Linked DNA regions of Homo sapiens. The protein of the gene in region 2 interacts with the protein of the main gene of each other region in a biochemical or structural test. Each region holds a gene or a part of one and is shown on either strand. Other genes may lie near its edges.

The links.
Region 1: the proteins of GP6 (region 2) and LYN form a complex in vitro, tested with the Homo sapiens proteins (one study listed by BioGRID).

Annotation. Positions count from the first base shown.
Region 1 is NC_000008.11:55,944,702-55,949,887, forward strand, and holds part of LYN (tyrosine-protein kinase Lyn), read left to right. Parts: intron 1-1,746; coding exon 1,747-1,792; intron 1,793-2,916; coding exon 2,917-3,022; intron 3,023-5,186. UniProt on the Homo sapiens protein: Non-receptor tyrosine-protein kinase that transmits signals from cell surface receptors and plays an important role in the regulation of innate and adaptive immune responses, hematopoiesis, responses to growth factors and cytokines, integrin signaling, but also responses to DNA damage and genotoxic agents.
Region 2 is NC_000019.10:55,024,131-55,029,316, reverse strand, and holds part of GP6 (platelet glycoprotein VI isoform 2 precursor), read left to right. Parts: intron 1-1,454; coding exon 1,455-1,739; intron 1,740-4,045; coding exon 4,046-4,099; intron 4,100-5,186.

The DNA.
Region 1 (5,186 bases), on a different chromosome or scaffold from region 2:
AACTCCTTACCTCAGGTGATTCACCCACCTCGGCCTCTCAAAGTGTTGGGAATACAGGCGTGAGCCACCACACCCAGCCTGTTTTTTGTTTTTAAATGATGAATAAAGATGTCCTTTATTCAGAAAAGTCAAGGAGAATAGTGTGCAAACCCACACACCGCTTTTTCCTCTTGTTCAAAATAAAGGGGATTAAAAATCAAGTTAGAAAGCAGAAGTAGTAAACACGCTTGAAGTCTTTCAATTCCCTCCTGTATACCATTTTTTGCCCCTTCTGTGGTCACAGATGCCCTCCACTCATGAGCCAGTTAGCCTGGCCTTATTCCATGGCCATAACCAACACTCTCAGCCCTGGCCAGATATGACAAAATGCACGCTATGGATTGATTAAAAGGGGAATTTGATGAGAAGGTGAGGTAGGGTTGATGCAAATTCAACAACATTCTAGAAAAAGCCATTTTAAGGAAAAATCTAGAGCAATAGTATATGTGTGGCATACATGTGTTTCGGTCTTATAAAAAGCATATTAAAATGTTTGTAAGTTAAGGGCTTTTTGAAATTTGAAAAATCAGCTTGCTGCTTTTAAAATGATGTAATTAGTTTCTAGTCTTCTAGTTATTTCCTCTAAATCACATAAAATAGATCATATATCCAAATTATGCAAATCTGAATGACTAAAAAATCAACATAAAACTTCCTGACATAAACATTTGAAGGATAGTATGCAGCCATGGGTTTTTCTGGTACTACAATGTAGTAATTTTCCCTGTCTCACTGAAATGGAGATTTTATGGGCTTTCATCAGAAATTTAAATTTCAGTACAAACTGTTTTGGTCCCATTCTGTGAAGCCACTTTAATCAAAGAGAGACAGAAAAGTTACATGACTTGTGGTATAGGCCTCTGACAGCATCTATCTTACAAGAGGCCCAGAGGCCTCACACAGCCTCATGTGGCACTGTGAAGAAAAGAATTTGATTTTAAAGGTAATTGAGGTGGTCTTCTGTGCCACCAAATCCTTCCCAATAACTCACCCCCCCACTGAAATAACAGGGGATGCCATCTGTCCCTGTGATGGAGTCAGGGTCAGCCCAAGAAAACCTGGATGGGATGGGACTTGCTCTCAGCCTCCAGGGACAGAGCCCTGACCATGCAATTTTATACAATTGGGGAAGCCTCAGATGGGCAGTCCCAGGCTGGGACGGCAACTCCACGAAATCACCAGGGTCCCACCTCTTCCGTCTCCATCCTGCTGCCGCTGGTGTTTGCTTTCTATGTGAAGACTCCAGCCTTCACTTGTTTCTAGGGAGAGAGAAAGAGGCAAGGGAAAAGGGGAGCTGACAGCAAAGCCCTGCACAACCGATCTGCGGACCAAAACTCCCTCTGCCCTCTGCCCGGGGCTAGAGAGTTTGGAAGCACACTCATTGAGCTGGGCAAACTGCCACCCCAAATAATATTAGGGCTCTGTCACCAAAGAAGAGGAGGAGCTAGGATGAGGTGAGCACCTGGCACCTGCCCAGAACCTCGCTCCCTTCCTGCCACCCACAGCAAGTGATAAAGAGCCCTGTCACTGGCCAAGCAGGGCAGGATGCACCTCTACAGGTTTTTCCCTCTGTGCTCCTGTTCTTTCTGACTTAATAAATGAGCCCATCCTAACATCTGCTACTGTTACAAAAATCATATATACAACACGAATGTGAGTAAGAAAAGCTAAACAGAATTTTTTTTTCTAACAAATATTCTCTCGTAGGTTCCAGAATCTCAGCTTTTACCTGGACAGAGGTTTCAAACTAAAGGTATGTTTTCATAGCAACATAGTTAAAATTTTTTTTCTTTACTATTAGAGCTTCTATAAAGTGATTGTCCTAAATGTTTTTATTTTTTTTTATTGTGGGACATATATAACATAAAAATTTACCCTCTTAACTATTTTTAAGTATACATTTCAGCAGCATTAGGTACATTCACATTGTTGTACAACCAATACCGCCCTCCATCTCCAGAATGCATCTTCTCAAACTCCATACCCATTAAACAATAAGTCCCCATTGCCTCCTCCCCCAGCCGCTGGCAACCTCCGCTCTTTCTGTCTTTATGAATTTCACTACTCTAGGTACCTCCTAGAAGTGGAATCATACAGTAATTGTCCTTTTGTGTTTGGATTATTTCACTTAGCCTGATGTCCTCAAGGTTCATCCATGCTGTAGAAAGTGTTAGAATTTATTTCCTTCTAATAGTGAATAATATTTCCTTGTAAGTATATGCCCTGGCCGGGTGCAGTGGCTCACACCTGTAATCCCAGCACTTTGGGAGGCCAAGTTAGGTAGATCACCTGTGGTCAGGAGTTCGAGACCAGCCTGGTCAACATGGTGAAACCCCGTCTCTACTAAAAACACAAAAAATTAGCCAGGCGTGGTGGTGGGCGCCTGTAATCCCAGCTACTGGGGAGGCTGAGGCAGGAGAATAGCTTGAACCCAGGAGGTGGAGGTTGCAGTGAGCCGAGATTGCACTATTGCACTCCAGTCTGGGCGACAAGAGCGAGACTCCGTCTCAAAAGAGAAAAACCAAAATGCTACATGATGTTTATCCATTCCTCCATCAATAGATGTTTGCATTATTTCCACATCTTGGCTATTTTGAATAATCCTGCTGTGAACATGGGTGTATAATTTCTTAAATATAGAGTTGTATTTATAGTTTTAGTTTTAAGTGATTTGCAAGAACAAATACTGGACACAGTGTATACAGCAAGGTACTCTCTGTGGGCCGTGCAGACCCTGAGCCCACTAGGCAGGAAGCACATGTCCTTCTTCCAGTTGCCCCCTCTTAGTGCTTCCTCTCATCCTTTGTGCCCCATGAGGTTTGTTAAAACGCTTCTGCTGATGGATTCTTACAGGTGTTCTCTTGTGTTCATCTTTAGATCCAGAGGAACAAGGAGACATTGTGGTAGCCTTGTACCCCTATGATGGCATCCACCCGGACGACTTGTCTTTCAAGAAAGGAGAGAAGATGAAAGTCCTGGAGGAGTAAGTGCTCTCAAGCACGCCACGGCTGCTCGTTTCCTCAGGCCACTGAGTCCTGCAGGCTGTCCCCTTGTCTTGCTTCTGGTGCTACAGCCATAGCCCGGCCCCTTTCTTGTAATGGGTATGAGGCCTCCTTGCTACCCACAGGGAGTGGGCAGTGGAAGGAATAGAGCCAAAGGGATTTTCCTTTTAAGTCGGTCTGTGAGCACACTTCAGGGGGTTTCCCTTTGAAGACAGACAGTGGTTTTTCTTTAAAACAATTTTTTTTTTTGAGATGGGATCTCTCTCTGTCATCCAGGCTAGAATGCAGTGGCATGATCATAGCTCACTGCAGCCTTGAACTCCTAGGCTAAAGCAATCCTCTCACCTCAGCCTCCTGAGAAGCTAGGACTACAGGCATGTGCCACCAGGCCTGGCTAATTTTTAAAATTTTTGTAGAGATGGGATCTTGTTATGTTGCCCAGGCTGGTCTTGAACTCCTGCTGTCAAGCAATTCTCCTGCCTTGGCCTCCCAAAGTGCTGGGATTACAGGTGTGAGCCACCACACCCAGCCTGGTTTCTTTCTTTATCCACTCTTGCCACCTTAAGAAATTTGGGTCTGTGTGGCCCATGCATGATACTTGAAATGTCACTTTTCTTTTGTTATATTACTCATGTTTAGACTGGGTTCATGGGCCCAGCCTAGCTTGAGTTCTAAGGGTACTGAGCTACAGCAGCTGTGTTGGGAAATTCTCAACTCAGCAGCTGCCATGCTTTTGTGAGGACGCCTGAGTGTCGTCATCTCCTCAACCCCCTCTTGCTGACTCAGACATGTGGCAGTGTCAGACCATAGGCATGCAGGACAGTGCTCAGAATAAGAAACTCCAGTTGCTTTAATTCTAGCTTGCTTTTCTTACTAATCTTGCATTAAATGTCACTGTGACCTGCCAAATAGGGTTTGAGGGGGAGACTCCCTTATTAAGGACAAGGTGTTCCGTGGTTGAGAGCAATGTTGCATATGGGTTGAACAGGGACTTAAGCCTGATCCTGGCCCTGCCACTTGATAGCTGTATGACCTTGACAAGACCCTTAAACTTTATACCTTGGTTTCTTTACTTATAAAATGGGAATGACAGTACCTAGATCATGGGGTTGATGTGAGCATGATGCATGTGTTTAAACATGACATAAGCAAAGAGGATGCAGAGCTTAGTATTAGTTCTAGTTGCCTTCATGCCTTACAGACAAGGATCCTGTCTGTGTGTGGAATTTATAGAGGAATGCAGTTAAGGCTCAAAGGGACCCATTCCTTCCCCCATTACCAGCTTACCTGCTTGCTTCTTCCAGTGCTCATCCCTGCCTCCTCCCTGGCTCCATGCCTGCCTTTCTGCTGAGGACTCGAGCATGGTGCTGAAGCTCACTTGCTTGGAATTGTCTTATGGTTTTCTTCTTTTCATAGTGTCCATCTCTATGATAACTAGATGTTTGAACAAAGGAGTTTATAATGCATGAACTGTGGACCAGTATTCCCTTGACTCTCATTTCTATAAGGATTTGAAAGCATTTCTTAGCTATCCTGGGGCAAGTTACAAACCTTTTGTTTCTGTGAGATGGGAGCCATTTGTACCAACTCTTCTTTGTGCACCCCTGATCGCAGTGATGCGTGCTTTAGTTGTAAGGCTGTTTTCCTTTGCTTCTGTCTCTAAACATATTTTAATTCCATCACGGAGAGTGAATTTTCCCACTGGATTCTGGGGTTCCAGAGATGTTCTCCACCCGCCTTCACCATCCTAAACAAACATCTTGAGACAATTGCTATTGTAGCTGTTGAGTCTTGGATATAAACACTTTTTTCCTTTTATTTTTAGTTGACATGGAATAATTATATGCAGTCATGGGATACAGAGCGATATTTTGATACATGTATGCAGTGTGTACGGATCAAGTCAGCGTAATTAGCATATCCATCATCTGGAACATTTATTCTTTCTTTGTGTTGTGAACATTCAAAACCCTCACTCCTGGCTTCTTTTCTTTGTCTCTCTCTCTCTCTTTTTAATAGCTTTATTGAGAATTCACAATACCATACAATCCATCTACTTAAAGTGTACAATTCAGTGATTTTTTTAGTATAGTCACAGAATTGTGCAATCATCACCACAATCCATTTTAGAACATTTTAAATACC
Region 2 (5,186 bases):
TGCCATTGCACTCCAGCCTGGGTGACAGAGCGAGACTCCGTCTCAAAACAAAACAAAACAAAACAAAACAAATGAAACAACAAAAAAAGAATACAGACAGACACATAATAGTTGCTTAAGTGAAAATTAAGAGAAAATATTGCTGAGTGAATGTTACAGTTATCAGGCAGCTTATATATTTCCTTCCTTCCTTCCTCCCTCCCTCCCTTCCTTCCTCTTTCTTTCTTTTTCTTCTTGTTGAGTGAATGCCATAATTATTAGGCAGCTTATATTTTTATCTTCCTTACTTCCTTTCTTTTGCTTTCTCTCTCTGTCTTTTTTTGAGACAAGGTCTCACTCTGTCACCCAGGCTAGTGTACAGTGATCATAGCTCACTGCAGCCTCGCCTTCCTGGGCTCAAGCGATCCTCCCACCTTGGCCTCCCAAAGTGCTGGGATGACCGGTGTGAGCCGCCGCACCCAGCCTCAACCTTTGTTTTTCTGACTCCTGTGTGCAGGCATGCATCACCACACCGGTCTATGACAACAACCTCACATCAGAGTAGTGTAGGTTCGTGTTTAGGAGCGGAGACCCTGGAATCAAACTCTGTGAGTGCAGATTTCAACTCTGCCACTTATGATCTTGGACAAGTTTTTTATTTATTTTTAAATTAAAATATGTCCAGCTTTGTTGAGGTATAATTGAAAAACAAAAATGGAATATATCCAAGGTGTACAAGTTGATGTTTTGATATACGAATCCACTGTGAGACAGTTACTACTAGCAAGCTAATTAACATACATCACCTGACACAGTTAACTTTTTTGTGTGTGAGAATACTTATAATCTACCCTCTTAGCAAATTTCAGCTGTACACTGCAGTATTGTTACCTAGAGTTGGACAAATTATTTAATGCCATGTGCCTTAGTTTCATTTATAAAATAGGGACATTAAGAGTGAGGACTCCATAGGTCTCTGAGGATTCACTGAACTGATATACATCATAAGTTTGGAAGGCACCCGGAAGCTAGCACTGTCAGCCACATTTACAACGTAACAATTGTATGTGGCAATACAAGCTTACAGCACAGTATAAGCTTAAGCTATTTACTTACTCCAGCGCTTGCTAGGCAACAGGCACTCTGCAAATTACTGTGTACTGTCTCATTCAGTCATCCCCATTTTAACAGAACAAGGCAGTGAGGCTCAGATACAGAGGGAGATTTGTCTCCAGGGCCACCAGGCCCCTGAAGGCAGAACTAGGATTTGCACCCAAGCACTAGGACGTGAGCACAGCCTCCTTCCTCAACCACTGGGTGACTCGACCTCTCTGTGAGCTTGGGTGGGGGAGTGCGCTCTCTGGGAGGGATACAGCCAAAAAGCTCCCCAGCTCTTAGGCAGGTGTGGGGACCTCCCCAGTCTCAGCTGAGATGCTGGCTCCTGCCTTCAACATCAGACTTTCTTTTTCTCCCAGGAGTTTTTGCCAAACCCTCGCTCTCAGCCCAGCCCGGCCCGGCGGTGTCGTCAGGAGGGGACGTAACCCTACAGTGTCAGACTCGGTATGGCTTTGACCAATTTGCTCTGTACAAGGAAGGGGACCCTGCGCCCTACAAGAATCCCGAGAGATGGTACAGGGCTAGTTTTCCCATCATCACGGTGACCGCCGCCCACAGCGGAACCTACCGATGCTACAGCTTCTCCAGCAGGGACCCATACCTGTGGTCAGCCCCCAGCGACCCCCTGGAGCTTGTGGTCACAGGTAGGGGTAGTGCAGACCAAACCTTTCTTCCTCAGCCTTTATAGGTCCTGATGGCCATTCCAAGGGAGGGGCCATAAGTGGGAAGGAAGTGGGAGGGCAGGAAGCCCTGGGCTGCAGGGGCGGGGCCGTAGGTGGGAAGGAAGTGGGAGGGCAGGAAGCCCTGGGCTGCAGGGGCGGGGCCGTAGGTGGGAAGGAAGTGGGAGGGCAGGAAGCCCTGGGCTGTAGGGGCGCGGCCATAGGTGGGAAAGAAGTGGGAGGGCAGGAAGCCCTGGGCTGCAGGGGCGGCGCCAGAGGTGGGAAGGAAGTGGGAGGGCAGGAAGCCCTGGGCTGCAGGGGCGGGGCCGTAGGTGGGAAGGAAGTGGGAGGGCAGGAAGCCCTGGGCTGCAGGGGCGGGGCCGTAGGTGGGAAGGAAGTGGGAGGGCAGGAAGCCCTGGGCTGCAGGGGCGGGGCCGTAGGTGGGAAGGAAGTGGGAGGGCAGGAAGCCCTGGGCTGCAGGGGCGGGGCCGTAGGTGGGAAGGAAGTGGGAGGGCAGGAAGCCCTGGGCTGCAGGGGCGGGGCCGTAGGTGGGAAGGAAGTGGGAGGGCAGGAAGCCCTGGGCTGCAGGGGCGGGGCCAGAGGTGGGAAGGAAGTGGGAGGGCAGGAAGCCCTGGGCTACAGGCAGCTGGGAGAATGGAGGTTTCTTTTTTTTTTTTTTGACGAAGTCTCACTCTGTCACCCAGGCTGGAGTGCAGTGGCGCGATCTCAGCTCACTGCAACCTCCGCCTTCCGGGTTCAAGCGATTCTGCTGCCTCAGCCTCTCGAGTAGCTGGAATTACAGGTGCCTGCCACCATGCCCGGCCAATTTTTGTATTTTTAGTAGAGACGGGGTTTCACTATGTTGGTCAGGCTGGTCTTGAACTGACCTCATGATCTGCCCGCCTCGGCCTCCCAAAGTGCTGGGATTACAGGCGTGAGCCACCGCGTCGGACTTGACTACCATTCTTAAAGGGGGTTTCTTTCAAAAAAGAGCAGCATACCTCATAATGTGGTTATATACATGCAATGGAATATTATGCAGCCTTAAAAAAGAAGGAAATTCTGACACATACTACAACATGGATATACCTTGAGGACATTATGCTAAGTCAGTCACAAAAGGACAACTACTGTATGATTCTAGTCAAAGGAGGTATCTAATGTCAACACTGTAGAAACACAAAGTACAATGGTGGTTGTTAAGGGCCAGAAAGAGGAGAGAGAAGGAATTAGTGTTTAATGGGCACAGAATTTCAGTTTTGCAAGAAAAATAAGTTCTAGAGGTCAACATATTGTACCACAATGTGAACATACCCAACGCCACTGATCAGTACATTTAACAATGTCATATTAAATCAAACAAAATACATCATTTAGTTTTTGGTAGAAAAATCTGTTTTGCCCCCAGGGTCACAGTGAGGGGTAGGACACAGGAATCCAGAAGAAATAGAACTGAGGTTGAAAAAGGTGGACGGGAGCTGCATGCATTTCCTTGTTAATAGCCCAGAATGTGCCAGGTGTGCTTTACAAATGCTGCTGCTTTTTTTTTTTTTTTTTTTTTTGGGGGGAGTCTCACTTTGTCACCCAGGCTGGAGTGCAGTGGAGTGATCTCAGTTCACTGCAACCTCCACCTCCTGGGTTTAAGCGATTCTCCTGCCTCAGCCTCCTGAGTAGATGGGATTACAGGCACCTGCCATCATGCCCAGCTAATTTTTGTATTTTTCGTAGAGACAGGGTTTCACCATGTTGGCCAGGCTGGTCTTGAACTCTTGACCTCAGGTGATCTGCCTGCCTCGGCCTCTCAAAGTGCTGGGATTACAGGTGTGAGCCACCACGCCTGGCTAAGCCTTTTTTTTTCAGATGGAGTCTTACTGCGTCACCCAGGCTGGAGTGCAGTGGTGCGATCTCAGATCACTGCAACCTCTGCCTCCTAGGTTCAAGTGATTCTCCTGCCTCAGCCTCCCGAGCAGCTGGGATTACAGGTGCACACCACCACGCCTGGCTAATTTTTGTATTTTTAGTGGAGACGGGGTTTCACCATACTGGCCAGGCTGGGCTTGAACTCCTGACCTCAAGTGATCTGCCCTCCTCAGCCTCCCAAAGTGCTGGGATTACAGGCATGAGGCACTGCACCCAGCTCAAATGCTTATTAACATCCACAACAGTCCAGTGATGTAAGCTACTTTAGGCTCATTTTTCCGGTGAGGAAACTCAGTCACGGAGATGTTTCGTTATTTGTTCAGGACCCACAGCGACAGAGCACAGATTTATCTCATTTTCTGATTTCCCAGGAACCTCTGTGACCCCCAGCCGGTTACCAACAGAACCACCTTCCCCGGTAGCAGGTAGGTTCTGCAGGGTCCATTCTGGTGCACAGCGTATGAGGTACACGGACCCCTTCTCTCTCTCCTCTCTGCCTAGACTTCTCGATTTAATTCAGTTGGTTCTTTCACAGATTTGCTTTGTTTTAAAAATCCTTTATTTCTGCCTGTAAACAGGGTGGGTGTCCTAAGTAGTTAGATGTTAAGATGCTGCCCCCAATCCTACTCTAGGTGGATGGTTTATCACATATAACATGCAGAAGAATAATCGGAGTGGCTTGCTATACTGTGGAGTCCAGCTGGTTGAATATGGGTGACAAAAACAAACAAACTAACCAACCAACCAACCAACCAACCAACCAACAAACCTGTAGAGTCCGGGACTCTGTTTCTGAGTCACTGAATGCATTGATCAGCGGTTCTCAAACTTCCATGAGCATAAGAATCACCTGGAGGCTTAAAGAATAGATTTCTGAGCCCCCAGGGCTTCTGCTTCAGTAGGTCTGGGGTGAATCCAGTCATTTTCATTCCTAGTAAGTTCCCAGGTGATGCTGATGCTATGGCTCCAGAATGCTGCTTTGAGAACCACTGCGGTAAGTTTTGTGTGAGGCGTGTTATCCCCTCCACTTTCACAAACATCTCAGCTGAATACGGTGTACCAGACTACGGCCTGCACTTTAAGAATATCATACGCTAGGCTGGAGGCTGGGCGTGTCTAACATTCCCTGTGTCTCAGAGTGAAGCACCAAGGCAGGAGAAACATGCTGGAAAGAGCCGAGGTTGATAAGGATGAGATTTGCGGGGTTGAGGGCAGAGTGAGGGCTATTATGCCTAGTGGGCAGGGACATGGAAGATGGTCACATACTGTGTGCGTGCATATGTGTGTGTGCGTGCATGTGCGTGTGTGCGTGCATATGTGTGTGTGCGTGCATATGTGTGTGCATGCGTGCATATGTGTGTGTGTGCATGCGTGCATATGTGTGCGTGTGCTTCTGACTGAATTTTTGAACTTTCTCTTTTGAAATGGTTCTAGAGTCACAGGAAGTCTACAATGATAGAACAGAAGAATCCCATGTGCTCTTTTTCCAGTTTCCTCTAATGGTTACATCTT